3 linked regions of the Homo sapiens genome follow. The protein of the gene in region 3 purifies or fractionates together with the protein of the main gene of each other region. This does not show direct contact. Each region holds a gene or a part of one and is shown on either strand. Other genes may lie near its edges. The genes, in order: TOR1AIP2, MGAT5B and ABHD18.

The links.
Region 1: the proteins of ABHD18 (region 3) and TOR1AIP2 purify together in Homo sapiens (affinity purification with mass spectrometry; 2 studies listed by BioGRID and IntAct, with this or other methods). This does not show direct contact.
Region 2: the proteins of ABHD18 (region 3) and MGAT5B purify together in Homo sapiens (affinity purification with mass spectrometry; 2 studies listed by BioGRID and IntAct, with this or other methods). This does not show direct contact.

What each region holds. Positions count from the first base shown.
Region 1 is NC_000001.11:179,845,434-179,855,444, forward strand, and holds part of TOR1AIP2 (torsin-1A-interacting protein 2), read right to left. Parts: intron 7,379-10,011; 5' UTR 7,233-7,378; coding exon 7,199-7,232; intron 5,931-7,198; coding exon 5,412-5,930; intron 3,442-5,411; exon of another isoform or gene 2,792-3,441; intron 2,204-2,791; coding exon 2,102-2,203; intron 1,396-2,101; coding exon 638-1,395; 3' UTR 1-637. UniProt on the Homo sapiens protein: Required for endoplasmic reticulum integrity. Regulates the distribution of TOR1A between the endoplasmic reticulum and the nuclear envelope as well as induces TOR1A, TOR1B and TOR3A ATPase activity.
Region 2 is NC_000017.11:76,862,400-76,872,678, forward strand, and holds the start of MGAT5B (alpha-1,6-mannosylglycoprotein 6-beta-N-acetylglucosaminyltransferase B), read left to right. Parts: upstream 1-6,004; 5' UTR 6,005-6,630; coding exon 6,631-6,698; intron 6,699-10,247; exon of another isoform or gene 10,248-10,279. UniProt on the Homo sapiens protein: Glycosyltransferase that acts on alpha-linked mannose of N-glycans and O-mannosyl glycans.
Region 3 is NC_000004.12:128,016,449-128,026,459, forward strand, and holds part of ABHD18 (protein ABHD18), read left to right. Parts: intron 1-914; coding exon 915-1,053; intron 1,054-3,631; coding exon 3,632-3,721; intron 3,722-4,688; coding exon 4,689-4,790; intron 4,791-10,011.

The sequences.
Region 1 (10,011 bases), on a different chromosome or scaffold from region 3:
GAGTACAGCTGCTTATACCTCAGCTGAATGAAATAAAAGCACAGTGCCTTACATGTAGTATTTAGGTAGGTACTTAATGGTTTGAATTCTTATTTCTTTTATCATACTACTCAAAACTGCAAAATTAATATAAGATATAATCCCGTAACTTTAGATTATTAAAGTAAGGTTTGAAAATATTCAACATGTGATAGAAAAATTTTCTAAAGGTTATCATTGCTTCATAATTCTAATTGCTTTAGTCCAAGTCCAAACATTATCGAAAAGGTTCTTCAGAGTCTCACTCAAGAAAAAAAAAAAATCACTCTGTAGTTACTCTAAGAAGTAAGAGTATCTTCCTGTGCAATGTTGCTATATTTTAGAATTTAAAAAAAATTCTCATATATATCATCGATATTTCAAACCTGATTTGGTCCAAAGAAAAAAAGTCAGGTTAATTTTTAGCTTTGTCAAGGCTTAGATTAGAAAGATTTTACAAGGAATAAAAAATAAAAACTTGTTTCTAAAATAAGCTCATCTTTGTTTTTCAGGCTATTTCCTCAAGCTATTTTATCAACCTCCTTCCATATAAATGGAAGGTCTTTAAACAAACTTTTTCATAAACATATACCTTCTGTAACCAACTCTGTGCTTAGCTTTAGAAAAGGCACCCCTGTTCTTCTATGCTACTCACTGGCTGGACTGGCAGTACCAGGTGTGAAATTCGGCTCCACAGCCCACTCAATTTGTCTGAGTCCATGTGGTTGAAGGAGGTGGGAGTGTCAGAGTTGGTAAACTTGGCCCAGAGTAAGTCTCTCACTTTTTCTTCCGTTTCCCTTGGGCCTACACTTGCTTCTAATGTTTCCTCCTCTAGCAGAACAGTCAGGACCAGGGCCACATCTTTAAAGGCAGCATTCTCATGATCACAATACTTATAGAAGATCAAAGTGGAGCCGGCAGGGAAGGATTCGAAGTGGTGTACCACAGCAGCCTTCTGGCCATTCTCAAACCCATAGCTCAGCTCCAGGTCAACCAACAGCTTGACCGTGTCACTGTCCTGCCAGGTCCTTCCAGCCCCATCAATCTGAATGGGAGAGACTTTCTGGGAAGAGGTGTAGGCATCTGCAACATGGTGGCTCAGGCACTTCAGGGTCTCTCTTCCCTCCCGAGCTGCTGTAAATATGATGGTGGCTGGCTCAGTGGGGTTGGAAGCATTGAGGTGCTTCTGGAGAAACTTCCGTCCTCTCTGCCACAGGAAGGAACTCTGGCCTGGAAATTTATCTTCCAATTGGCTAAACTGGGCCAAAAAGGCCTCCAAAGCTGGATTTTTGGGCACTTGCTGGGCTGGAGAGGAATAGTAGCTATTCACAGAACTTGCCACAACAGCCACAACCAGGACGACAAGAATCACAGGGCCTGTCAAAAGAATGAAAAAGGAATAGAAAATTACAGAGAACACGAGCCAGAAACAAAGCCTGTGGTAAACTGAAATGAGGCAGAGATACCAGCAGGTTTTACTAGGAGCAATAAGTTTCTTTTGCATAAATTGTTTAAACTTTCAATCCACCAGAAGTACCTTTTCTCTAATCTCTTCTCAGATTTAATTATTTGAAGATATATCTGTTAAAAGATAAAAGCTACGTGGAAGAGTTAAGTACTCGGTAAAAAATTTTTAAAAATAAAAGGTAAAAGCTGAGTCTATGTATTTGTTATTATAACTAATGATGTAATTTAGACATGAGTGATCAAGATTTTTTTTCATCTTCTCAATGCACCTACTACCTATAGCCGACCATTTTTTTAGGAGTCATAACTTTAAAGTGCACTTGAAAAATTAATATTCTCTAATTAGAAAGGCAGTTTTTGTTTCTTGTTTAGGAAAAGCCTTTCCTATTGTGAGAAATTCCATTTTGTTAAGCACAGCAAAATATCAGCCAGCACCCGTAAGGGAAAAATCCCTAAAACTCTAGTGTACTATTTTACTATGTCTCACTACCAATCATTAAATAAGTATATATAAACACAATGTTAAAACTGTTTAAATCTGCTAGTTTTCTAGGCATTTTCACTGAGGATTTCTGAAAGTGAATCAACACTGCAGTAAAACCAGGTTTGTTCTCACCATAGCTCCAAAAACCCTTTTTATTAATCTGTCTCATGGTGTCCTGTGCATTCTCTTTAATTTCTTCCAATTTTTGTGTTTGTTGTGGATGACTTCCAGCCTCTGGAGAGGAAAAGAATCAATATTATTTTTAGGCAGTACACTAATGACAGTATGTATACCTTTATATCTCTCACCAAACCAAAGAATGATTTGACTAAAAGGCTTTCTATACCTTGGCCAGGTACGGTGGCTCATGCCTGTAATCCCAGCACTTTGGGAGGCTGAAACAGGTGGCTCACTTGGGGTCAGGAGTTTGAGACCAGCATGGCCAACAAGGTGAAACCCTGTCTCTACTAAAAATACAAAAATTATCGGGCATGATGGCGGGCGCCTGTAATCCCAGCTACGTGGGAGGCTGAGGCAGGAGAATCGCTTGAACCTGGGAGGTGGAGGTTGCAGTGAGCCGACATCGTGCCACTGCACTCCAGCCTGGGGGACAGAGCAAGACTCCATCTCAGAAAAAAAAAAAAAAAAAACCAAAGTTAACATTTTTCCTGTCTTTTCTTTAAGACTATTACTTTTATTCTACTTAGAAGGATAAAATGAAATACTGTGAAATTCATTCAAGGATAATGTTGCTATATTCACAATTCCTTACTGCCTCTTATATCAAAGACAAAGACATTTAAATAGTGCGGCCAAACTTACCTAAAATGTAATTCAGCAAAATGTATAAAATCAAGAAGGGATTTAAGAAATGTTGGCTGTACACAAGATTCAACTTCACAGGGTAATTGTGCTCTAATTCCAGTGTTCGAGTTTCACATGGTTCCTCAAGACCCCGAATATAAAAATAACAGAGGCACTAAGTTCTAAGATAGGAGAGATTAGTGTACAGTTGCAAAATAGCTTACAGAAGCAAATTTGAAACTCTTAGTGAAGGAGATATACAAAGCAAGGAATATAAGGTGAAGAAAATTCACGAAATATGTAAAAATCCAGATGTAGGGAGGGCATGCCAAGCTTAAAATATGTGGGTGAAAAGAAGGGCAACAATTTTTAGCACTCTAAGCTAAATCACACTAGAATCTAAATTTGTGCTTAACCCCAGCCAGGTACTTCTATTAGCATAGATGAGTAGGATCATCTTCACTTATAAAGGATTGTTCCTATCACCCCAAAGAGTAGGTTCTTAAAATATCATATCATAGAATCTAAGAACTGAAAGGATCTATAATGGACACCTACTCCGGCCCCATTACTTAACCTATCATGAAAAAAGGTCCAGGGATATTAAAGATCTTGCCCAAGGTCACATAAAGAGATGTAGCTGGCTGGGCGCAGTGGCTCACGCCTGTAATCCCAGCACTTTGGGAGGCCGAGGCGGGCGGATCACAAGGTCAGGAGATCGAGACCATCCTGGCTAATACGGTGAAATCCCGTCTCTACTAAAAATACAAAAAAAAAAAATTAGTTGGGCACGGTGGCGGGTGCCTGTAGTCCCAGCTACTCGGGAGGCTGAGGCAGGAGAATGGCGTGAATCCGGGAGGCGGAGCTTGCAGTGAGCCGAGACAGCGCCACTGCAGTCCGGCCTGGGCAAAAGAGTGAGACTCCATCTCAAAAAAACAAAAAAAAAGAGATATAGCTAAGTTGAGATGAAAACAAAGTTTCTCATCTCTTAGAGTATAGATAACCTCATTCAACTATATTAAATTGCTTTCCATACATAAACTGCATTTTTTTTTTTAAAGACAGGGTCTCACTCTGTCAACAAGGCTGGAGTGTAGTGCTGAAATTTCGGCTCACCACAGCTTCAACCTCCTGGGCTCAAGCAATCCTCCCACCTCAGCCTCCTGAGGACTATAGGTGCATGCAGCTGTTTTTGTGTTTTCTGTAGAGATGGGTTTTTGCCATGTTGCCCAGGCTGGTCTTCCTGGCCTCAAGTGATCCACCAGCCTTGGCCTCCCAAAGTGCTAGGATCACAGGAGTGAGCCACCACCCTTGGCCTAAACTAGATTTTTTTAAACAATATTTTTTCTACTCACAGTGAACCTGCCTAACAGTGAATTTTTTTTTAAGAGATGGGATCTCACTAGATTGCCCAGGCTAGCTAGAATGCAGTGGCTATTCACAGGGGTGATCATAGCACACTGCAGGCTTGAACTCCTGGGCTCAAGCAATCCTCCCAACTCAGCTTCCCAAGTAACTGGGACTAGAGGTGTAAGTAATTGCACCTAGTTTATAACAGTGAAATTCTGACGCAGGTCATGGTCCTTACAGATCACATTCATTCATTTGACAAAATTCATAAAGGTGTTTCTATGTGCCAGGTGCCAGAGATACACAATGAATGAGAGGACACAGTCCTTGCCTTCACTGAAGTTACAGATTATTCTAATGATTAATAAATAAAACATATATTTGAGATTAGTCATTGATTTGCAGTGAAACATGAATTACTAGCCCTTGCTGAAGTCCCTGATGAACAGAACATCTTATATTTTATATTCTTTTGCACTGGCAAATGGGCATTTCAGACTGAGCTCTTCAGAGTGCTTATAAAATACAAACCCACACAGACAATCACAGAAGGTGAAAGTTAGAAGAATGTTTGGATATCATCTTGTCCAACTTCTTCATTTTACAAACAGGAAATTGAAGCACCAGGAAGGGAAGATTTTCCCAAGGTCTCCCAAGTCAGCAAGTGGTAGGGCCACAACTAGAATTCACACCTCCAGTTCCAGTTAAGGATTTAGCACACTGCAACGCTTAGCTTCATAAGGGAAGACATGCTTGTTCCTCTTAACATATAGGCAGAAAAAACCACGTATAGAGAAACTAACTGTCTTACTCAAAGTCCTATAAAACTGAAACATGACTGAGTTAAGGATACTGTCCCATTAATGCTCATTTTTAAATATACCCATCTCTTGATTTATGTAACATTTAGTTTCCCAAAAAGTAAAAGATTTTAAAAATTGTAAGTCGAAATATTCTCATAAGAAATAAAAAACCAGAAGCGAATTTTTTAAAAGTCATGCCCCTTTTTGTCATATCACATTAATATAAACAGTTAATAAAAACATGCTTAGAAATGCAGTTTATGTGTAGGAAGCAACTTAATATAGTGGAATGAGCTAGCCTAGATGAGAAACCTCATTCTAAAATCAACTCAGTCATGGCTTGGTGTGAGCTTGGGCAAGGCCCAAAGGCCTTACTCCTATGAAAGATGACAAAAGTTCTCTGGAAAGAAGGCCTCTGACTTCTGCTGTGTTCTCAGTTAACAGAGCAGTACAAAACAGGAGAGTAGTTCAGGGGGTTCTCTTACCTGGGGCCAGCAGTCGCCTCCTCAGTGTATCCTCACCCTCTTGCCCTGCACTGGAATGACCAGGACTCTGGGCCTCCTGGGAGTCTGTAGTAGGTGGTTCCTGAGATGCTCCAGTTCCGTCACTCGCTTCCTTAGGGAGGGCCACAGAGCTGCTCCCTAAGTGTGCATCTGCTCTTCCTACCTTGTCACTTGGAGAATGGCTGGGATCTGGATCCAAGGGTTCTTTACCCAGATTTTCTGAAGGGAGGTGATGCCCTTTTCCGCCATCCAGAAAACTCTGCTTGTTCTCATCTTCTGTTTTATCCTTTGGATGTTTCCCCACATTTGCTTCATCTGGACTTTCTGATTTATCACCTGTATCTGCACTTTCTGGACCTTCTGTCTCTACCTCTTGGTGGTCTTTGCTAAGACCACAGGCAGAGTGTAGGATCTCAGCTTCTTCAGCATTACTTGCTATGATTGTGGTCTCCTGCGCCTGAGAATTTACTGATGGATCATTTTCCAAATCCTTTTGAGAGTCTATTGAGATAAAAGTTTATAATTTTTATTGGAAAAAATTCCCCATAAATTTATATTTTAACAAGGTCCCTGTTTAATAATAATATTTACATAGATTTTCATGGTTTACAAGACACTTCCTAAACATTATTTCTCTTGGCTCCCACTAAAGGCAATTAAAACAACAACAAAAAAAATCTTATCATGTTAATAAATATAAAATGACACTAATATAAAACAAATTATATGACAGAACAAACTTTTGGCTATATTAAATATATCCTCTTCCCTAATGAAAGGCAATGCTCATCAATGGTAGCAAAACCTTATGCAAAAGGCTGATAGGGACTTTTATAGTGGATGAGCCAGACTGACAACTGCTGAACCCAGCGACCAATCTTCACATCATGAAAACAGGGAAACCCAAACAGATATCATTTACTTTCTAATACAATGCAGTAAGAAGTACTCTAGACCACTTGGGAAGTATTTTTGCCAAACAACTAAACTTAAATCTGGTAAGTTTCTAGAGCAACCAGTTTCCAAGAAATATAGGGATACAGGAATACATTAAATTATGCCTCAAGAATATAATCAGCAAAACCCAGCACGTGGGAAATTCCAAAAGACTTTGTTTCTTTAATAAAAGTAAGAATGGCCAGATGTGGTGGCTCATGCATGTAATCCCAGCACTTTGGGAGGCCAAGGCAGGTGAATCACCTGAGGTCAGGAGTTCAAGACCAGCCTGGCAACATGGTGAAACCCCGTCTCTACTAAAAATACAAAAATTCACTGGGTGTGGTGGCAGGCGCCTGTAATCTCAGCTATTCTGGAGGCTGAAGCATGAGAATCACTCGAGCCCGGGAGGCGGAGGTTGCAGTGAGCTGAGATCACGCCACTGCACTCCAGCCTGGGTAACATAAAAAAAAAAAAAAGGAGAAGAAGAGGAAGAAGAAAGATACCTTCTAAATATAGCACATCACAGGATATATATAACTCTAAAGATTTGTCTACCATCATTTTTTAAAGAAGCATTGTATTTTTCCATTACTATAAGTCCTTACTATTGGAGTCTCTAAAACATTTATCTTCCTTATATTATAATTAGGGTCTCGCATTATAGTAAAATTCAGTAAATTTGAAAGAATAAGTATAATCAAAACAAATGAACCCACTGAATTAGCTTTTTTACTTCAAAACCTCAGATTTTAGTCATCAGAGATTTTCTCTCTCTGCACACCCCTGGTTTCCTACAGCAGCAACCTCAGTGCCAGACAAATCAGTCTTACCCTCTTGAGGTTCCCTAAGTCCACTGTCGGCCATGTTTGTGTTCTATCTCTTCAGAGTTGGGAGGATACTTTTTTTAGTACTTGGTTTTCCTTGTGAAGATGTCTTGTTTTCTTCTTGTCCCAAGTCCCAACAGACTCATGCTTCCCATGGACCCAGGAAATAAGGCATATATACAGTGACTAAAACAAAATGAAAAAAAATTAAATGACTTTTTATCCATACAAGGGAGAAATGCAAGTATCAGCTTTATTTATTAAATATGTGTAGCTTGAGTACTATTTCCTCTGTGAAACTTTTTTCGTGAAGAAAATTTCCTTTCATGAGAATCATATTCCAAATCCTAGACTACTGAAAAAAGCTCCAGATTATTAATCTTTCATGAATTTCATAATCTAATATATTCCAGCATAGTTGAAAGAGTATAAAAAGTAAGATCAAGTGACCAGAATCTTCAACAGACTAGCTTGAATTAAAATAAAAAATAAATCTAAGAGTAGAAATTTAAGTCATTGCTGAAACAATCACTGCAGATTTCCTGGATGTCTTCAATTTCTGTCCCAGATAATTTTCTCATAGTCTGCCTATCAGGAGCTTTCACTTATATTAAAAAGTAACAATGCACAGGAGGTTCCCACAAACTGAGATGGCTGCTTTGAGGTGTACCACTACACATTTGGACTGACTTTGAAGTGGTTTTCTCGAAGTATTCTTTTGTAAAATATGGAGACAGATATTCCTTTATACAATGCCTTTTTATGCAATGCTCAAAGACAGACAAAGAAAATTATTAAGGTTTACACAAAAGGAATCAAAATCAAAGGCACTTTATAAGCAATAAAAACAGTCATATTTTATAGTTCTTTTTTTTGTCAAAAACAAATTGATCAATAAAGTTACTTAATATTTATTCCCTATGAAAATGAGAATAATGATATCTATGAGGCTTAAATACAAAAATATATAAGAAAAACCTGTGTGAAGTGTTATAGTTTTTTGACAGCCTAGCTGGAAGGCTAGCCAACTGGCCGTCTTTATGTTTTTCTCAGTACTCTTTTGTAAAATTTAAATTTACACATTAAAAACTTTGATCCCCAATGCCTACACGGTGCCTAGTGTATAGTAAGAACTCCATATTTTAACTTAAAAGCTTATGAAAAAATAAATGAATGTATAAATAAAGAGTGATGCCATAGATAAATTGGAAGGGAAGAGAAGAGTTAGGGACAGATTTTCTTTCTGCCACTGTGAACACTTAGCGAAGTGTTCAGAGGGTTCCTTGTCAGCTCTTTTATCTTCTTCAAGCTCCTGGGATTGGGCTTTCAAGCCATCATATGTTGGAATGAAGTTTTCTCTCCTATCCTAGCTCATGACAGAAAATAAAAAGTCCCCAGTCCTTTTTAAGTTTTGTTAAAAAAATTTTTCCTGCCAGCCAAAACCAAGAAAATAGGCTAAAAGTTTCCTATGTACCAATAACAAAAATTTTCAAAAGGAATGATGCTACTCACAATAACCTTAAGGAACCTAGAATAAAAACTAAAAGATACCTAGTAATAAATCCAACAAGAGATATGTAAGATCTTTAGACAGTGGTGAATTTTATGGTATGTAAATTATACCTCAATAAAGCTGTTTCTTTAAAACACAACTTTAGAGAGAAAAATATAGACCTTTATTGAAGTCTATAAAAAAGAGATAAGTAAACAGAAAAAAAAATATCATGCATAGACAAATAAGACTCAAAACCATTGATGCCAATTTTCTCCAAATTAATCTACAAATTTAATGCAATTTGAAACAAAATCTCAAGTTTTTTGATTATTGTTGGTTTCTAGTGAAATGGAAAAGTGGGTCCTAAAATTCACAAAGAGCAGCAAAGGATCAAGAAGAGTCAGCATAATTCTAAAGAAGGGGGGCAATCTTTACCAGATATCAAAACTTCTTTAAACTTAAAAATAGGGTGGGCACGGTGGCTCATGCCTGTAATCCCTGCACTTTGGGAGGCTGAGGCGGGCAGATCACCCAAGGGTCAGGAGTTCGAGACCAGCCTGACCAACATGCTGAAACCCCATCTCTACTAAAAATACAAAAATTAGCCGGGCATGGTGGCGCATGCCTGTAATCCCAGCTACTCAGGAGGCTGAGGCAAGAGAATCGTTTGAACCCGGGAGGCAGAGGTTGCAGTGAGCCCAGATTGCACCACTGTATTCCAGCCTGGGTGACACAGCAAGACTCTGTCAAAAACAAACAAACAAACAAAAAACTTAAAGTAATAAAAGCAATGGAACACTAGCACACGAATAGACAAACAGTATACAGAATAGAGAGTCAAGAAATATATGCATACATACATAAGGAAATTGGCCAATTCACAAAAGGGAAATAATGAATTAGTGAATAAATAGCGTGGGGACAACTGACTATTCAAATAGGGGGAAAAATTAGATTTCTGTCTCCTATTCATATAAAAATCAACTCCAGATTAAAGACCTAAATGTAAACAGCAAAACTTTTAAACTTTGAGAATATCAAATATCTTTATAACTGCAAGGGTTTCTTAAATAAGATATACAATACACAAACCAGAAAGGAAAATTTGACAAATGTGACCCTATTAAAAAATTTTAATTTCTACACAAGGTATCAAAATTAAAAGGTAAGTCTCTGACTAGAAAAACATCTGCAACACATAAAACCAGTAAGGAATTAATATTGAGAACACATAAAGAATTCCACAAATCAGTAAAAGACAAATAATGCTATGAAAAGTGGGTAAAGGGATGAATAAGCAGTTCAACAAAGAGGAAATATGAAA
Region 2 (10,279 bases), on a different chromosome or scaffold from region 3:
ACCTTTCCTGCAGAACAGGGCAAGTACAATAGCTCTGCTCGCAGCTCCCACAAGCTGTGCGGTAGAATGGCCTTCTGTCATAAATAAAAATAAATCCTAGACGCTGCCTTTCAATCAGAGGATTAGTCTAAATGTTGTGAAACAGAAAGCATAAAATATGCATTGGAGAAGCAGCTCTCCCCACCTCGTGGCCTCTGCACTCGAGGTGGCTAGTGTGTGAGGGCCAGTTGTCCCCGCGCAGTGCCACTGTTGCTGATTTGTACGCGGTGTCAGTAAATGCTGTTATGACATTATTAATGCTGCACACTACGGCAAAGGACAATGGCCTATTGCCTCGTAATGTGCTGTGTGCTGCTGCAGTCGGAGCACATTAAATGGGGATTTCAAACATGGTAAATGGCTTGTTTCTCTTCTCCCTCTACACACCCCAGGCCCCGTCTATGAGCTCTAAAAACAACCTTGAAGCCTTCAGAAGGTAGGAGTGGCAGTCGAGCCTCTGATGCCCAGTGAGGCTCCAGCGGGACCAGTGAGGGGGTCCAGGGGTCCCTAGGAAGCAGCCCAGCCTTCCCACCCCCAGAGTGCACCTAGGACTGTTGACTTTCCTCGCTGGGGCAGGCAGGTGTCTGGGCAGCTTGGCCTGAGGCTTGAGGGTGGTGGGGTAGTTCAGGGAAGCTGGACTTGCCAGGTGGGTGGGCTGGTGGGCTCACTGCTCTGCCCTCCAGTGACACGCGCAGGGGGCCCAGATGGTAGGCCTTCCGGTGGATTTTATTGGTCTTGCACAATGTTCTAAAAATACTGAGCCTACATTTTAAAATTATGCGACTTCACAGGAGAAGCCCAGATTTCTGGCTTCTCTTGAAATAACTGGGCCCACAGTCACACAATGCAATGGTGACGTGTCCCCTTCGGGGGCTGCAGCCCTTGACGGTCTTTAGCCACACTGGTCATTTGAACTAGGTCCCCGTAGTGGGTTAAACAGTTTCTTCCCCAATCCATGTCTTCCCAGAACCTCAGACTCTGACCTTATTGGGAAATAGAGTCTTTGCAGATTTAACTAGTTAAGATGAGGTCCTGTAGGATTAGGGTGGGCCCTAAATCAATGAGTAGTGTCCTTACCAGAGGAGGGATTTTCAGGCACACAGAGATACGCCCAGAGAAGGCCAGATGGAGATAAGGCAGAGACTAGAGTGAGGTAGCTACAAGCCAAGGGCTGCCTGGGGCTACCAGGAGCTGGGAGAAAAGCCTGGGGTGGTTTATCTCTCAGAGCCTGGAAGAAATGGACCGTATCAACACCTTGATTTCAGACTTCTGGACTTCAGGAAGCTGAGGCAGGAGGATCGCTTGAGCCCAGGAGATCGAGGCCGCAGTGAGCTATGAGTGCACCACCGCACTCCAGCCTGTGTGACAGTGCGATGCCCTTTCTTATAAAATAACAAATAGATAAACAAGGACTGGCATCAGGTGTCCCTGTTTCCAAACCCCATCCCTTTTCACTGTTTCTTGAGGCTATCAACAGACCCACAACCAGCCAAATGCAGAGCAGGAGGCACATTCGCCCAGGTGCCCTAAATATAGCACTTCCAGCCCCTCCCCTTGAGCAGGGTGAATGTGAAGAAATAAATTCCAGTTGCCTTAAACCACGCAGGTTGTTGTGGTTTGTTGCGATTGCCTGGGAAACACCCCACTCCCCTTCCCTTGTTTTCTGGCCCACCCTGTCAGTATTTTGAGTTTGGACCTCTGAATGGCAGGACTTACCTCACTGCACCCTTCCCGAGTCCTCTGCCTGTTTGGACACAGGCCTCCACTGCCTGGCCAGGGAATTCTGCTGACTGTGGGCTTCTTCTGACCCCTCCAGCCAGGCCAGCAGGACCCAGGGGCAGGGGGAGGGGCTGGAAATGCTTTTTTTTATTATTGTTGTTGTTTTTTGAGACGGAGTCTTGCACCGTTGCCTGGGCTGGAGTGCAGTGGCACAATCTCGGCTCACTGCAACCTCTGCCTCCCAGGTTCAAGCGATTCTCCTGCCTCAGCCTCCTGAGTAGCTGGGATTATTGTATTAGTAGAGACGGGGTTTCACCATGTTGGTCAGGCTAGTCTCGAACTCCTGACCTCATGATCTGCCCACCTCGGCCTCCTAAAGTGCTGGGATTATAGGCGTGAGCCACCGCACCTGGCTTTTTTTTTTTTTTTTTTTTTTTTTGAGACGGAGTCTTGCACTGTGGTCCAGGCTAGAGTGCAGTGGTGTGATCTCAGCTCACTGCAGCCTCCATCTCCCAGGTTCAAGCGATTCTCCTGCCTCAGTCTCCTGAGTAGCTGGGATTACAGTCACCCGCCACCAGACCCAACTAATTTTTTGTATTTTTAGTAGAGACGGGGTTTCACTATGTTAGCCAGGCTGGTCTCGAATGCCTGACCTTGTGATCCACTCGCCTTGGCCTCCCAAAGTGGTGAGATTACAGGCATGAGCCACCGCGCCCTGCCAGGAACTGCTATATTTAGGGCACCCGGGTGAATGTGCATCCTGCTCTGCATTTGGCTGGTTGTGGGTCTGTTGATAGCTTCAGGAGAGAAACAGTGAAGAGGGATGGGGTTTGGAAATGGGTACACCTGATGTCAGTCCTTATTTATTTATTATTTTATAAGAGACAGGGCGTCGCACTGTCACACAGGCTGGAGTGCGGTGGTGCGCTCATAGCTTACTGCGGCCTCGATCTCCTGGGCTCAAGTGATCCTCCTGCCTCAGCTTCCTGCGTAGCTGGGACTACAGGTGCATGACACCACACCTGGATAAGTTTTAAAGTTTTTGGTAGAGATGGGGTCTCACTATGTTGCTCAGGCTGGTTGTCTCAAGCTCTTGGCTTAGGCATTCCTTCTGCCTTAGACTCCCAAAGTGCTGGGATTACGGGCGTGAGTCACGGCGCCTGGCCCACCGTCAGTCCTTGGCCGGGCCCTGCAGCAGGTGCCGCCGTTCCTACTCCCCTGTTCTCTGGCTTGCTTCCAGAGACTTTCCTTTCTCCTCAGGAGGCCACAAGTATTTGTCTAGAACAGTGCTTCCCCACCTTGCCTGTGTCGGCATAACCTGTGGCATCAATGCACCAGCGTGCCCAGGCTGCACCTCAGGTACTGGATCAGAATAAGGACAATTTTGCTAAATTCTGCAGGTGATTCTGCTGGAATCTGGGCTGAGAACCACCAGTCGATGAGGCAGGATCTTGGGATCTTGGTGTGGGTCCCCCAGAAACAGATGCTCAGAATAGGATTCTGCAAGTGGTTTATTTGGATGGTGACCCCAGGAACATTGACCGGGGAGTGGAATGAGACAGGAGGGAAGGGAGTGAACACAGGGGCATCACAGGGCTGGCTACACCACGGGTGACTGGAGCTCAAACTTGCTGGGAACCTGGGGAGCCACGGGGTAACACGCCGCGGAGTATCCCCCTTAGGAAGAGGGAGTGGGGGTGTCTATCCACTGCTTGAGGGCTGCTGCCAGGGTGTTGATCCTTTGTCCAGGGTCCTTTCTTCTTGCCCTTTTGTGTTCTAGCATATTCCCACAGCCATTAAAAAAAAGTCCTCAGGCAGAGAGTTGAAGGTGTTCTCAGTCATCTGCCTCTTAGCTTGCAGAGGTGACTGCAGTGGGAACCAGGACTGGGCACAAACAGCATCTGTTCCTGACGGACAGTAACAACCATCAGAACCACCATGCTTGAAAGGCTCAGGAGGTCCTGGCAACGGGCTACTTACCTGCATTAAGCGGCTCAATCCTCAGAACAGCTCTATGAAGCAGGTTATAAGGAGCCCCACTTATAGTTGAGGAAACTGAGGCATGAAGAGGTTATACCCAAGACTGCATGATGTGGGATTCACAGTTTTTCTCCTAATGCCTACAGCACAGTGGAGAGCAAGCAGGACTGTTTACACTGAACTTTACTGCAGACAAGAGGCCAAAAAAAGGGGACAGACTTCAAAAGGGACAGGCAGCTGGACAATCTGGCTTGCAAAATGCCACTGGCTGGCCCAGCATAGTGGCTCATGCCTGTAATACCAGCACTTTGGGAGGCCGAGGCAAGCGGATCACTTGAGGTCAGGAGTTTGAGAGCAGCCTGGCCAACATGGCGAAACCTGTCTCTACTAAAAATACAAAAATTTTGCATTTTTATAGGCATTTATTACAGGTATCGTGGCACGTGCCTGTAATCCCAGCTACTCAAGAGGCTGAGGCAGAAGAATCTCTTGAACCCAAAAGGCGGAGTTTGCAGTGAGCCGAGATTGCGCCACTGTACTCCAGCCTGGGAAACAGAGCGAGACTCCATCTCAAAAAAAAAAAAAAAAAAAAAAAAAAGTCACTGGCTGTCCTCTGCTTGCTTCCCTCCCTGGCCCAAGCCAGCCGTCAAATGGCAGAGAGGCTTTCCCGCTCCAACTTCAAAGTCCAGATCTAAGGGTGTGTGGCCCAGGGGAAGAGGGGAGTACCTTCCCCTACCTTCTAAATTCTGGCTTCTGTGGAGGGTAGGCCACCTCCCCAGATGACCCACACCAGAGGTGGCCATGCCTTCTAGGGAACCCCATCTCCACCACTGAGGAAGAGGCTTCCCCTTTGGCCTAAAATGGCAACCAGATATAAATGCCACCCCCTAAGCCTACTCAATCAGAAGAACCCCCAATCAGAAGAGAGACACCTAATCAGAAGGACCATTTCATTCCTTAGTGTAGATATGGCTTATTGCCAGGATTTGTGGCAGATGTAGGCACCCAGGCATGAGATGTGATTTACAGGCCTGGCAGAGACCTCTGCCCTCCAACATCTCCTTAGCCAGCCTGCCACGATGCCCAAATTTCCGGCCACCATTCATCACTCTTCTGCACAAAGGCACGGTCAGCATGTCCTTGTTCAATGCAAATTTGTTACCTAGCCTGTGTAACACATTATATCTGCTAACACCAATTTATCACCCATTTTCACATTAGCAGAGAGCAAGGCAGTGAGATAATGGAACTCAGCACCGGTAAATTTTGATGAAGAAGGAGCAGCAAAGCAGAGAGCGTGAGTCATGGCCAGTGAGTAATGGCCCAGGAAGGGGGCCGGGAGGTGGGCAGGGCAGGCAGCAAGGGGCCTGGGTATGGGGGATTGGAGGGGACCAGGCCCAGCTGGAGGAAAATAAAGTCTCCTCCTCGCATAAGCCAGGCTGCAGCATCGTGGCCTGAGCTGGGAAGACCCTCAGAGTCATTTGACACATGACTGAGGCTTTGGGCACTTCCCAGGGTGGGGTGGTCAGATATGACCTCGGGAAGTGCTTTTGAAGCCGGAGAGCTTTCTTCAGGCTGGCTCTGCGAGCTCCCAGGAGTCTCTGTCTCTGCAACTGCAAACACATCTCCAGAGCCAGGAAGTACGAGGAGGGGGAGGGGAGGACGCCTAGATGCTAAGAGACGACATGAGATCCTACATGCTTTAGGGTTGCAAGGGACCTTGGTGAGCTTCTGGTCACTATCATTTCATAATGGAGACTCTGAGACGTGCACACTTGATCGCCCACTGGCTAGTGGAGGATCTGGGGCTACAACTCAGTACGCCCCTGCGCCTGGCTCTGTGAGCGGGCCCCAGCACCACAGGCCGAGTTTATACTCAGATCAGTAAGCAAAGAGGAGCCACGGGAGTTTCTGACCAGGGAGGGGCAGAAGATAGGCATGTGTTGCCAAGCGAAATCGTGGGAAGCGGCTGATGAGGAAGCCCACGGAGGCACCTGGCAGAAGAGAAGGGTCTCCGCTGGGTGCGCATCTCTTCTGTGCTCTGCGGGAGCCAAAGCAGCTTTCGGCCCTCGGGGCTGGTGGCGCCCTGGGAAGCTGCTTGGCTCAGGGGAAGGAGCAGGGACCCCCGCCCGCCCGTCCTCGAAGCTGGTCCTCGGCGTCCCAGCCCCGCACGGCCCCGGGCAGGGCGCACAGCGGGGCTGCGGCCACGAGGTGGCGCCGGCGCGCCTTGGAAGCGCAGCTGCAGCTCCCGGGCCGCCCCAGCGCCGCTCGGCCGCCTCCTCCGAGGAACAATGCGGCGCCTCCGGGCGTAGCGTCGCGCGGGGCCGGACGCCGGACACCAGAGCGCGGGCGGCGGAGCCAGCGGGCGAGAGAGCGCGCGGCGGGCGCGGGTTGCCCTCGTCGAGAGCCATGGGCGCGGCGCGGCGCGGGGCTGAGGATCGGCGCGGCCCGGAGGCGCTGGGGACCGGGGCGCGGGCCCGGGGCCGCCTTTAGCCGGCACCGAGGGCGCGGGGCCGGGGATGAGGGCGCCCGCCGCGGGGAGCCCGTCTGCGCGCCGCGGCACCTTCCCGCCCAGCGAGCGAGCCCGAGCAGGCAGACGCGCGGCCGGCGGTCTGGGGGCGCGCCGCCTCCCGGTCCCCAAAATGTGAAGCGGGGAGGGCGGAGACGCAGAGACGGCCCGGCCGGGCGCCCTCGCCGCCCTCCGGCAGCCGCGCCGCTCCCTCCGCTGCACGCCCAGGCCTGAGCAGCGAGGCCACCGGGCCGCGCGCTCCCAGCTTCGCTCGGACGCGGCTTCGGCCCGCAGAGGGTTCGTGGCCCGGACGCGGCGAGAGCTGGGCCCAGGACGGTGCGTCCGGCCTCGCCCGCGGCTGCTCGCACCAACAAGTTTGAACAATGATCACCGTCAACCCCGATGGGAAGATAATGGTCAGAAGATGCCTGGTCACCCTGAGACCCTTTCGGTAAAGTTCCCTCCTGGTTGGTTTTTTCCCCAGGGGGGCGCCGGGTGGAGGTGGGCGAGGTCGGTTCCTGCGAACGTTCAAGTCCTGGTGGCAGAGGGGGCGGTTCACACTTCAACCCCTGGTGATGACCAGTGGGGCTGGGCTGGGGGAACGGATGGCGTTGGGGTTCGGGGTGCGGATGGGGAGGGTTGTGTTATTCGGGGACCTGTCCCGAGTTGGGCAGGGTTGGAGAGGACTCGGGGTGCAGAGGTAAGAATGGGGGCAGAAAACCCCCAGGTCGTGGTCCTGGGCCCAGAAAGTTGCCCCAGCCTGCGCGCCCCTTCCCAGCCCCTCAGGGTCCTTCCTCACCCCGCGGACGGTCCCATCCGGGTGGCAAAGTTAGTGTGCGGCGCCTTGGAGCTCCCCCTCCGGTCCCTCCCGTCCCGCCCGTCTGCCCCTAGGTCGGCTACCCCCCAACCCCTCCGCCTGTGCCACCCTCTCCCCAGCCTTTGGTGGCACTGCTCTCCTCCCCGCGGGGCTCGGGCCTGGCTCCGACGAGAGGGTCCCGAGATTAGAGCGAGGACTCGCTCATCCCAGGATTCGCCCCCGATCGCAGGCGTCGGAGAGGCGGGGGCAGGGGCGGCGCTGCAGGGCTACGGGGCGGCTGGAGCCGAGGCTGCGGCGGAGCGTGGTGGGCGGGCGGTGGCGAAGGCGACACGCTTCGGGCGGCCAACACCTGGGGGCCCAGGCCAGGCAGGGCTGGGGCCGCGCGGGACTCACTGGACCCAGCCAGGGGCCCCCAGGGCCCAGCGGTGCCGGGGCAGCCCCCTCTCCTCCCAGGCATCCGCGGAACCGGCCCGCAGCGGGGTGGGGAGGGGGCGCTGCCCAGTGGACGCCCGGCGGGGCCCGAGTGTCACCCCGTGGGTAGCTGGGCAGCGAGGAAGCTGGGGGAGTGACCGCCCCGGCGCGGGGGCCGGACTCGGGACGTGGCCACAGGTGGGCTCCGGGCGCGGGAAGGAGCCCGAGAAGGCGGAGCTTGCAGGGGCCCTGAACTCTTGCCCTCCAGGTCTCGGCCCAGCCCCACTGTGGTCCCCCTGCCGGCTCCAGACGGGGATGGGGGCGGGGAGACGGTGGCTCACCTGGAGCCCGCCTCCCAGCACACCGGGCCTGTCTGCTGGGCCGAGGAGGCAACCCCAGGGGACGGCAGGGGTCAGGCTGGACCTCTGCGGTCCGGGGGTCCGGGAGGCCCGGAGAGCTGGTGCAGGCCGTGGGTGGTGATGGGGGCGTCGGGAGCCCATGGGAAGCAGGGCGGGAAGCAGGCGTCTCTGGAAAGGGCCTTGCTCCTCCAGGGAAGGCCTTGAATCCCTGGCCTGACTGGGAACGCTGGAGGGTCCTCGCCCCTTCCGACCCCATCCCTGTCCCGCCCTCCGGGCCGCTGGGTGTTTCCTGGCGCGATTGGAAGCAGCCGCGAGACCCCAGCACCACGGACAGTGCTCGCGACCCAGGGCTGCTTCCCTGTCTGGTCCTGCCCTGGTTTTCTTTCAGGCCCTTATCTGAAGGCAGGATTGGGGGTGGAGGTGCATGGGTCCCCAAAGTTGTGTAACTTCACCCCAGGGTCTCCCTGGGCTGCCCGGAGACCCGCAGCCATCAGTGAGTCCCTTCAGTTGAGGTGGGGGGCAGGCTGCAATCATAGCACCCCAGCTTATTCATCCTCAAAGGCAGGCTGGGGTCCTGTTCCCTGTGGTTTTCCCAGGGCTGCTGGCAGGGTCTTTATTCCATAGGTGCCCCTGGAATGTTGCTTGAGTGGATACATGGATGGCTGAAGCCATTTTAACTTGAATCCACTCCAAATGGCCCCCAGCTGCCTTGGGGGACATTGAACCCCAGGATGGGGTTCTGGCAGAGGGAGATGCAGATGAGGTGTGTTAGGGGGCTTCAGGTTCTGGGCTGAAGGGGGTAGACACCTTTCTCATAGCAGGGTTGTTGGATCCTGGCAGGCAGCCCAGGTCCCCAGCTCTAAATACAACTCCTTCACTCCCCTGGCCTCTTCTCCAGGGACTAGAGACATGAGTGGGGGAAGTCCGTCCTTGTCCTCAGACTGGGAGGACAAATAGCTGATTTCCCCTGGGATCTCCCTGAGCATGGGACAGCACCTCTCCTGTGCCATGGCCGTGGCTGTTGTCTCCAGAGCCACCTGACTTCCTCTGAGGGACCCCAAGATCTGAGCCCCACCCCCAGGCTTGGTGGAATTCCGTGAGGCGTCCCTCTGCGCTAAGGAAAGTGTCCCTTGCGCGGTCTTGCCTACTGAATCATGTCTCCTGTCCTTCCTGCTGGGGGTGTGGTCTTCGAGTCTCTCCTTGGAGCTCCCAAGCCCCTCTCTGCTTTGGGGTTCTCCTCTTCTCTGCCCAAATCTCTAACAGCTTCCTTTAAATATGGGCTGGGAATTTTGTTGTGCTTTTTATTTCCTTCTGCAATTATATGTTTTCTTTAATGGACCAAATTTTAATTAAATACTGCTCTGCCAGTTTCAAATAATGAAGATTAAAATGCATAAAGCAAGTCTTGCATAAAGACACAAACAAGCATGGAACTTGAGGGCGGGGAGTGGAGGGGCAAGGCCCGGAGGTCTCTGGCATGACGTGGGGCTCTCTCCAGGGAGCCTGACTCCACACAAGATGGGGTTCCTCACCCTGATCTGGGGTTGGTGGGAGGGCGCCCCTCTCAGCTCTACCAGTTCATCAAGTCCTCTGATAGGTTCAAGTTCCCAGAAGAGCCCCAAGGCTGTGCTGGTGAGCTCAGCTTGCCTGTTTGGGGCCTAGGATTGATGAGGGAAGCAGCAGGACCCTGGGTCTGGACTTGAGGAAGGAAGGGTTCTGTGCCTTGTTCCCTGCTGTCCCCCTGGGGTTACCCCAGAGCCTGGCTCCTGCTGGATAATCAATAACTACATGTTGAAGGCAGGAACAGGAGTCCTGTTCTGACCAGCCCTCCCTCCCACCCAGTGTGACAGCACACACACCTATATGACACCCCTTGCACAGGTATGAGGACACCCTGGCCAGTCCGTGGTGCAGGCTGATGACCCTGGGCGTGCCTGCCTAGGGGAGATGTGTGTTGGGGGGAGCCTGGGCATGGGCCGTGTGGCTCTGCCCTGGACATCTTACCATCTAGTGGTGGAAGTGGAGGGGGGTGTTCAAACAAGCTCATGACTGCTGCAGCAAGGCCTCTGCACACTGCACCAAGGCTGGCCTGAGTGATTGATGGGGTCTGGCTGGCCTCAGGCCCTGCTGTGTCCATCACTGGTTCTCAAACTTTAGCATGCAGTGGAATCTTCAGGAGACTTTGCTAAAACAGCTTGCTTGCTCCACCCCAGAGTATCTGATTCAGTAATTTGGGGTCTGGGCCCGGCATTGGCATTTCTAAGGAGTCTCAGGTGATGCTGACTGCTCGTCTGGGGACTGCACTTTCAGGACTGCAGCTGTTAATGAACCAGCTCTGCCTGGAGGCTAGAGCCCGCCTGCCTCATGCCTAAGTGTGCGTCATTCTGCCTTGTGGTTTCTCGTGTGGCTCGAGGCCAGCATCTTGTAGTTGAGCTCTCTTTATCC
Region 3 (10,011 bases):
TAAATTCTTTATTTATATTGCCTTTTTTAAAAGTTATGCTTTAAGACTGGGCGTGGTGGCTCACGCCTGTAATCCCAGCACTTTGGGAGGCTAAGGCAGGCAGATCACTTGAGCTCAGGAGTTCAAGACCAGTCTGGCCAACATGGTGAAACCCCGTCTCTGCTAAAAATACAAAAATTAGCCAGGCGTGGTGGCTCACGCCTGTAATTCCACCTACTCAGGAGACTGAGACAGGAGAATCGCTTGAACCCTGGAGGTGGAGGCAGCAGTGAGCCAAGATCCATGCCACTGCAACTCTAGCCTGGGCAACAGAGCAAGACTCCGTCTCAAAGAAAAATAAAAAGTTATGCTTTAAATTCTGTTATAATAATTTCAGTAAAGATTATGTGCTATAGAACAGGAACACTTTTTTTTGTTAAGTTTTAGGTGATTTGATATGTAATCCAATGTTAGCAGCTGTGTAATTCTATTTTTTTTTTCTCTTTTTGAGACAGGGTCTCATTCTGTTGCCCAGGCTGGAGTACAGTGGTGCAGTCTCAGCTCACTGCAGCCTCTGCCTCCCAGGTTCAAGCGATTTTCATGCCTCAGTTTTCCACGTAGCTGAGATCACAGGCATGCGCCACCATGCCCTGCTAATTTTTGTATTTTTAGTAAAGACAAGGTTTCACCATGTTGCCCAGGCTTGTCTTGAACTCCTGACCTCAAGCGATCCCCCTGCCTCAGCCTCCCAAAGTGCTGGGATTACAGGCGTAAGCCATCACGCCTGGCCCTAATTCCAATTTATTACATTGTTTTACTTAACTATCTGGTCCTTTAGAAGAGATGCATGAAGTCTGGCAGCCTGTTGTAAATTTGCATATATTAGCATGTAAATACATAAAATAATCATTTTCTATTTTGTTTTGTGAGGCTAGAAGGTCCAGCTTAAAAAATGTGTCCGACCTTTTTGTGATGGGAGGAGCTCTTGTTTTAGAATCTGCAGCTCTCTTGCACTGGCTAGAGAGGGAAGGTTACGGCCCTTTAGGAATGACTGGAATATCCATGGGAGGACACGTAAGCCTTTTTATTTCTGCTTACATTTAATTATGTTTATGTTTGTAAGATCTAGAGAACCTGGTTATTTTAAAAATTCACTTTAGGTATAGAATTAGTTTTAGTAAAAGTAGGAAGCAGAAACAGATTCCAAACTCTTACTCCAATTATGAAGTAATGATGTTAATTTTTTGTACGATTTATTGATTGTACTACTCCACAGTTGTATCTCAGATATTAGATTTAACAGAAATTAATTATAAAATTTAACTTTTCAAGTCTCAAGTATAAATGCCCAATTTTGCTGTTACATTGGTGAAGATAGCTGAATTGGAAAATACTTTCCATTTATCTGTCTCCCTAGTACCACTAACCTATTTTACTTTTTGTCTGCCTTTTAGAGTGTACTAAAATGGATTCCTAATTGCTTTCTCTGTCTCTAGTCTTTTCTCTTATTAATCTTTGTCTTAACCATTTCTCCTCCACACCCTAACTACAGTGATCTTTCTAAATCTAGTCTTTGTTCTGTCTTGTTCAAAACCTGCCAAAAGCTTGCGTGCACACTGGGCTCCAGCTGTGTCACGTGCTAGCATCTCTCTAGTGCTCCCTTATTCTCTTTCACCTAGGAGTAACAGCTTACCCTTCTGTTTCAGCTGTGACACCCAGCCTTACCTCCAGACTATACTTCAAACTCTGATTAGTAACTTTTTACTGTACTTTACTGACTTGTTTAGCAGTCTGTTTTCTCCATGAAGCATTTGAGATATTGAGGGCCAGGAATATGCTCTGGTTTATTACTTGGCACATATTAGTCACTCAGTACATTTTTAAAAAATTATTAGTATTTTGTTTGTGTGTGGGCTCAAGTGATCCACACAGTTTGGCCTCCCAAAGTGCTGGGATTATAGGTGTGGGCCACTGCACCTGGCCTAAAAAATAATAATACCCCAACCTAGGCAACATAGTAGTAAGACCCACCCTGTCTCTACAAAAAAAATTGTTTAAAAAATTAGCCAGGCATGGTGGCACATCTCTGTAGTTGTGGCTACATGGGAGGTTGAGGTGGGAGGATCACTTGAGCCCCAGAATTTGAGACTGCAGTGAGCTGTGATCATACCACTGCACTCCTGATTAGGTGACCCAGACAGAAGCGAGATTCTATCTCAAAGTAATAATTATTATTATATGAAGTTTCTGTATGCCTCTTGAATTAGAAAATTAAGCTCAAAAACTTACTCAAATTCAAAACTATGCTGGGCACGGTGGTTCACACCTGTAATCCCAGCACTTTGGGAGGCCGAGGCGGGCAGATCACCTGAGGTCAGGAGTTCAAGACCAGCCTGACCAACATGGTGAAACCCCGTCTCTACTAAAAATACAAAAACTAGCCGGGTGTGGTGGCACGTGCCTGTAATCCCAGCTACTCAGGAGGCTGAGGCAGGAGAATCGCCTGAACCCAGGAAGCGGAGGTTGCAGTGAGCTGAGATCGCACCACTGCACTCTAGCGTGAGCAACAGAGTGAGACTACATCTCAAAAAAAAAAAAAAAAAAAATTCAAAACAACTACCTGACAGTGAAACAAAAGATGGAAAAGGATTTATTTTCCTACCTAGTAGTGTTTCCATTGTTATCACCTAGGTCAGGTCCTTATAACTTTCACCTGGATTACTGCCTATTAACTGGTCTCCTACCTCAGTTCTCCCCTTCTCTATTCAATCCTGTAAACTACTATCATGTTACCTTCTTTGAATCACTTCTTTGACAATACTACTCCTTTGCTCAGACCTCTTTATTAATTCCCGATTATCTATAGAACAAAGGACCTCTAATCTGATCTTGATCAATCTTTCTAGCCCTACTTACCTCCCTCACTCCATTGGCCATGTGTGCCTATTGACCATCCCAACTGAAGTATATTGGCTGTTTCCCTATGAGACCCTGTGCATTCTCACAGTCTTGCCTTTGATCATACTGATTCTTTCTCTGGAAGACAAGACCCTATCTTTCATTCCTCTAGAAGACTCATCCATTTCATGAAGCCTGCCTTTCCCTTCTGATTCCTCCAGCCCAGAAGGGAAAGTAACTTTTTGAAAAGATAAAGTTTTCCCTTCTCCAAAAGGGAGAGTGATTTTACCTTCTCTAATCACACACATTACATTATTTTAGATCTATTATATAATCTGCTTTGTAGTTCACCAAATTCTTGGCATACTCAGTCAACCTCAATGGTCTGATGTTTTATAGTTGTGATTTTGCTCTATCTGGCAAGTCACTTAAGTAATGAGTGTGTTTACCCTGCTGCCCAGCATCTACATCTCAGCATCTTTGCTCCATATTTACACAGTAGAAAGTAGCTCTCAGCGAATGGTCTTGAGGTTAAAGTTTTGTATTACATTTTATTGCTATCTAAGGGGGAAATTAAATGTTGAATTTATGATTTGGGGAATTTAATGAGGTGGCTAGACATTCTCACGAATGTTTGCAGACTTTGTGTTTATCTGACCAACTATTTACTGCACGGAATGCTTATTAATATTAAATATTTTTATTTTAATGAATAGAAACTCTAAATAGACGCTCTCTATCTGTTATATTACAGATGGCTTCCTTAGCGGTATCCAACTGGCCTAAGCCCATGCCATTGATTCCATGCCTGTCTTGGTCCACAGCATCTGGGGTCTTCACTACGGTAATTTAATTGTAATTAATATTAGGTAGCTATATATAATTAGAGGTAATTGTTTTGGGGGGGTCCCCAAAACCACCCTCAGCTTTGGTGATTCAAAGAAAGAATTATAGGACTCAGGATATAGTCGTAATCATGATTAAGCCTTAACTACAGCAAAAGATACAACACAGTCAACAGAAGGAAAAAGCGCATGAGGTAGAGTCCAAAGGAAACCAAGAACAAGCTTCCAAGAGTCCTCTCCTAGTGGAGTGTTACAGTTCATGCTTAATTCTTCCAACAATAATTATTGACAATAAGTGCAAAGTGCTGTCCATCAGTGAAGCTCCCCTGAGCCTTGCAGTCCAGAGTTTTTATCAGGGGTTAGTGACTTAGATAACTTCTGCCTAGCATGCACCAAAAATTCAGAAGGAAAGCAGGTGTTCAGCAGAAACCGCATTGTTTATATAAGCAGTTTAGGTACAGTGACCCACTCTTATCATTTAGGAAAAGTTTTATATAAGTATAGAAAGCTGTTTACTGGTCAAGTTCCCAGACTCCAGTTAAGGGCCAACCTTACAAGCAGGCTAAAGATAGGAAGTCTTAGGCCAGGTGCGGTGGCTCACGCCTGTAATCCCAGCACTTTGGGAGGCTGAGGCTGGTGAACCACCTGAGGTCAGGAGTTCAAGACCAGCCTGGCCAACATGGTGAAACTCTGTCTCTACTAAAAATACAAAAATTAGCTGGGCGTGGTGGCACATGCCTGTAGTCTCAGCTACTTGGGAGGCGGAGGCAGGAGAATTGCTTGAACCCAGAAGGTGGAGGTTGCAGTGAGCCGAGATAGTGCCATTGCACTCCAGCCTGGGCAACAGAGTGAGACTTCGTCTGCAAAAAAAAAAAAAAAAGGTAGTCTCACACAGTAATAATAATAAAAGTATTGGGCAAATTGCCTTATGATGTGGTTTGATCTTAATTTAGCTTATTATTTCAGGGTGTGTTGAGTAAATCAATTAATTGGAGGGAGCTGGAAAAGCAATATTATACCCAGACAGTTTATGAAGAAGAAATTATTCACATGCTTGAATACTGTGGAGTAAGTATTTCACTTTCCACCCAACATTGGTGGTGGGGGGAGTTGATTGTATATTTAATGATTCAGGTTTTTAAAGAGAATAGCAAATTTTTAAAAACATAGCTGTACATACTATTTTTTACTTTAAAAGATTTTTCATTTTTGTCTGGGCATGGTGGGTCACACCTGTAACCCCAGCACCTTGGGATGCTGAAGTGGGTTGATCACTTGAGGTCAGGAGTTTGAGACTAGCCTGGCCAACCCCATCACTACTAAAAATACAAAAATTAGCCACGTGTGGTGGTAGGTGCCTGTAATCCCAGCTATTCAGGAGGCTGAGGCAGGAGAATCTCTTGAACTTAGGAGGCAGAGGTTGCAGTGAACCAAGATTGTGCCACTGCACTGCAGCCTGGGCGACAGAGTGAGACTCTGTCTTAAAAATAAATAAATAAAAATTCTTTTAAAATAAAACACAGATACAGAGAATCATGCAAAGCAAATATGTGGTTTACTACATTTATTAAAAGGCAAACACACTGTAACTAGTACCTAGGTCAAAAATAAAACTTGACCACCCAACCCAGAAACCCCTTCAAATGTGTCCTAATCACAAGGCCTTCCTCCCTGCATTATTAGTAATCGTTATCCTTATGTTTATAGTAATTACTCCTTCTGCCTTTAAAATAATTTTATTATCCAAATGTGTATCTGTAGACCCTATAGTTCTTTTATTTGAAGTACCTTTAATAAGTTGCCTTCCGATAGAAAACCAAACACCGCATGTTCTCACTCATAGGTGGGAATTGAACAATGAGAACACTTGGACACAGGGCGGGGAACATCACACACCGGGGCCTGTTGAGGGGTGGCGGGCTAGGGGAAGGATAGCATTAGGAGATATACCTAATATAAATGGCAAGTTGATAGGTGCAGCAAGCCAACATGGCACATGTATACCTATGTATCAAACCTGCACGTTGTGCACATGTACCCTGGAACTTAAAGTGTAATAATAAAAAATCAATCAATCAATCTGTAAAAAAGAAAAAAGATAACTTGCCTTCCATCCCTTTATTTTCCTTATAATTTATTTCATGAAGAATTTAGGTTATTTGACCTGTAGGGTTTCTCACAATCTAGATTTTTCTGATTGCATTCTCATGGTACAGTTCAGCATATTGCTCTACGTTGCCTGAAAATTGGCAGTTGGATCTAAAGGCTTGATTAAACTCATTGTTTTGATTTCTTTCACAAGGCTATATAGGAAACACATAATATCTGATTATCTCTTTTTTTATGATATAAGCCTCTACTGATGCTTAATGACTATATCAATTCATTGAAGGTTGCTGATATTCTATTATTTCTTTTTCATGTATTTGAATACTTTTATAGGGAGACACTTACCTCATATATTATTTAGTTACATGGTAGTTCAGTTTGTATAAGAAAGGCAGTTATGGTAAATGCTTGATTTTTTTTCTGTAATTTACCAGTTTTCAAGATGATGAATTGGTTTCCTACTGCTCTTCAAAAGTGACCGATCCTTTTCTTTTTTTTTTTTTTTTCTCTGTCTTGCTGTGTCGCCCAGGCTGGAGTGCAGTGGCACGATCTTAGCTCTCAGCTCACTGCAACCTCCGCATCCCAGATTCAAGCAATTCTCCTGCCTCAGCCTCCTGAGCAGCTGGGACTACAGGCACGCGCCACTATGCTTAGCTAATTTTTGTATTTTTAGTAGAGATGGGGTTTCACCATATTGGTCAGGCTGGTCTCAAACTCCTGACCTCCTGATACACCTGCCTCGGCCTCCCAGAGTGCTGGGATTACAGGCATGAGCCACCGCGCCCAGCAATCCTTTTCATGAATTTAAATTTTTTACTGTTTGAAAGATACTGAGACTCTTAAGAAACTTCAAAAAAAAGAAATCTTTCTACTATGAATGAGAACTTTTTATTTATAATTAAATCACTGTAAACTTTACTCTTGTAAAGTAGGTCTATCTCACGTAACTTCAAAAGGTAGTTGATTGCTTGCCTAAGAACTTTATTACAAAATAGCTTTATCGGGACCAGGCGTGGTGGCACATGCCTGTAATCACAGCAATTTGGAAGACTGAGGTAAGAGGATCACTTGAAGCCAGGAGTTTGAGACCAGCCTGGGAAATAAAGTGAGACTCTTGTCTCTACAAAAAAAAAAAAAAAAAAAAAAAAAAAAAAAGCTGGGCATGGTGGTGCATGCCTGTAGTCCTAGCTACTCAGGAGGCTGAGGTGGGCAGATCACTTGATCCCAGGAGTTCAAGGCTGTAGCAGTGAGCTATGATTGTGTCATTGCACTCCAGCCCAGGTGACAGAGCAAGACCATTTCTCTTAAAAAAAAAAAAAAGGCTGGGCGCAATGGCTCACCCTGTAATCCCAGCACTTTGGGAGGCCGAGGAGGGCAGATCACGAGGTCAGGAGATCGAGACCATATTGGCCAATACGGTGAAACCCCATCTCTACTAAAAATACAAAAAATTAGCCGGGCGTGGTGGCAGGCAGGCGCCTGCAGTCCCAGCTACTCGGGAGGCTGAGGCAGGAGAATGGCGTGAACCCAGAAGGCAGAGCTTGCAGTAAGCCAAGATCACGCCACTGCACGCCAGCCTGGGCAACAGAGCGAGACTCCGTCTCAAAAAAACAAAAAAAAGCTTTACCTGCTAGTTAGTTCCTATACATATAATCAGAAGAATACCTGTATTTGAAAGTTTATGAGAAACTTACATGTATGTTTTAAAGGAAGTTTATAAATTTTGGTCATCTGAAATTGCAATGTAGTTGTCTTAGTCAATTTTGTGTTGCTGTAACAGAATATCTGAGACTGGGAAATTTATAAGACCAGAGATATATGTGGCTCACAGTTCTGGAGGCTAGAAAGTCCAAGGTTGAGGGGCCCACATCTGGTGAGTGCCTTCTTGCTGCATTATTTCATGGCAGAAGGCATAAGGGCAAGAGAGAATGTGTGTGTGTGCAAAAGAGATAGAGGGAGGGAAGAGGCTGAACTCATTCTTTTATCAGGAATCCATTCCCGGTAACTAACCCACTCCCACAGTAAGGGCATTAGTCCATTTATGAGAGCAGAACCTTCATGGCCTAATTAAAGGTCCCACCTTTCAACACTATTACATTGGGGATTAAGTTTCCAACACATGAACTTTGGGGGACATATTTAAACCATAGCGGTAGTCTTATTTGGCACTTCTCATCTCACTTAGAACCAGTTCACAATAACGAATATTCAATAAATGTTAAGATGTTTTCCCTACTCTTTGTATTTTCCCAGTCAAAAAAAAAGTTCAATTTATTGATGTCCCACTCTGAGTAATTCGGGGACCCTTTGATCTTTACATTTCCATATGTTACTAAACTTCCTTCCTCTTATAGTGATTTGTTGTGGTAACCAGGTTGTTCGGTATTTTTGTTTTCCTTGCCTTCAACCAATTTTAATTTTTTTTTTTTTTGAGATGGAGTTTCACTCTTTTGCCCAGGTTGGAGTGCAGAGGCACAATCTTGGCTCGCCGCAGCCTCCGCCTCCTGAGTTCAAGCGATTCTCCTGCCTCAGCCTCCCGAGTAGCTGGGATTACAGGCATGTGCCACCACGCCCGGCTAATTTCGTATTTTTAGTATAGACGGGGTTTCTCCATGTTGGTCGGGCTGGTCTCGAACTCCTGGCCTGAGGTGATCCTCCCACCTCGGCCTTCCAAAGTGCTGGTATTACAGGCGTGAGCCACTGCGCCCGGCCAACCAATTTTAATTCTTTAACTTAAAAAAAAAATGTATGGTCATATAATTCAAGCATCAAAAAGTATAAATAGATACATATAGTGAAAAGATTCCTACCCCATCTGTGCTTAGGTCCAATCCCCATCAACAAATAACAACCTATATTGTTTAGTGTTTCAGGGAATTTTTGGTCCATGTGCAAACCAATAAAAATATGAACTTTTTTTATCTTTTTCTTTTTATTTTGTTGAGGTAGGGTCTGGCTCTGTCACCTTCTACCTCAGCCTCCTGAGTAGCTGGGATTATAGGTATGCACCACCACACCTGGCTAATTTTTGTATTTTTTGTAGAGATGGGATTTCACAATGTTGCCCAGGCTTGTTTCAAACTCCTGGGCTAAAGCAATCTGCCTGCCTCAGCCTCCCAGAGTGCTGGGATTACAGGTATGAGCCACTGTGCCCAGCCTCACTTCCCTTTTTTATGGACTATACAAAGTGTTTCCTTATTATTTTTTACTGCTATATAATAGTCTATTATGTGAATGGATGTACCATAATTAATCAGTACCCTGTTGATAGATGTTTATGTTGTTTCTCATCTTTTGCTATTAATAAACAGTGCTGCAGTGAGTAACTTTGTACATTCATGTTATATAAGTGTAAATTCCTAGAAATATGATTGCTGAGTCAAGGGTATAATAATGTAGTTAGATTTTGTCTAATTCTGGTTATGTCAGTTTACACCACCAGCAGGAATGTGTCTTTCTTCATAAGTTCTCAAATTCAGTGTGTTATCAAACTTTAGTTTTTATTTTTTGTCAACTGGCACTGGAAAATGGCGTAGTTTTAATTAACTTAAGCATGAGGGAAGTTGAGCAAGTTTTTATAAGTTTAAGAGCAGTTTGGCTGGGCACGACGGCTCACACATGTAATCCCAGCACTTTGGGAGGCCGAGGTGGGCAGATCATGAGGTCAGATTGAGACCATCCTGGCCAACACGGTGAAACCCCGTCTCTATTAAGAATATAAAAAATTGGCCGGGCATGGTGGCTCACGCCTGTAATCCCAGCAGTTTGAGAGGCCAAGGCTGGCAGATCACCTGAGGTCAGGAGTTTGAGACCAGCCTGGCCAACATGGTGAAACCCCGTCTCTACTTAAAATACAAAAATTAGCCGGGCATGGTGGCAGGCACCTGTAATCCCAGCTACCCGGGAGGCTGAGGCAGAGAATTGCTTGAACCCAGGAGGCAGAGGTTGCAGTGAGCCAAGATCATGCCATTGCACTCCAGCCTGGAGGACAAGAGCGAGACTTCTTCTGAACAACAACAAAAAAAAAAAATTAGCCAGGCATGGTGGCATGCGCCTGTAGTCCCAGCTACTCAGGAGGCTGAGGCAGGAGAATCGCTTGAACCCAAAAGGGTGAAGTTGCAGTGAGCTGAAATCGTGCCATTGCACTCCAGCCTGGGTGACAGAGTAAGACTCCACCTCA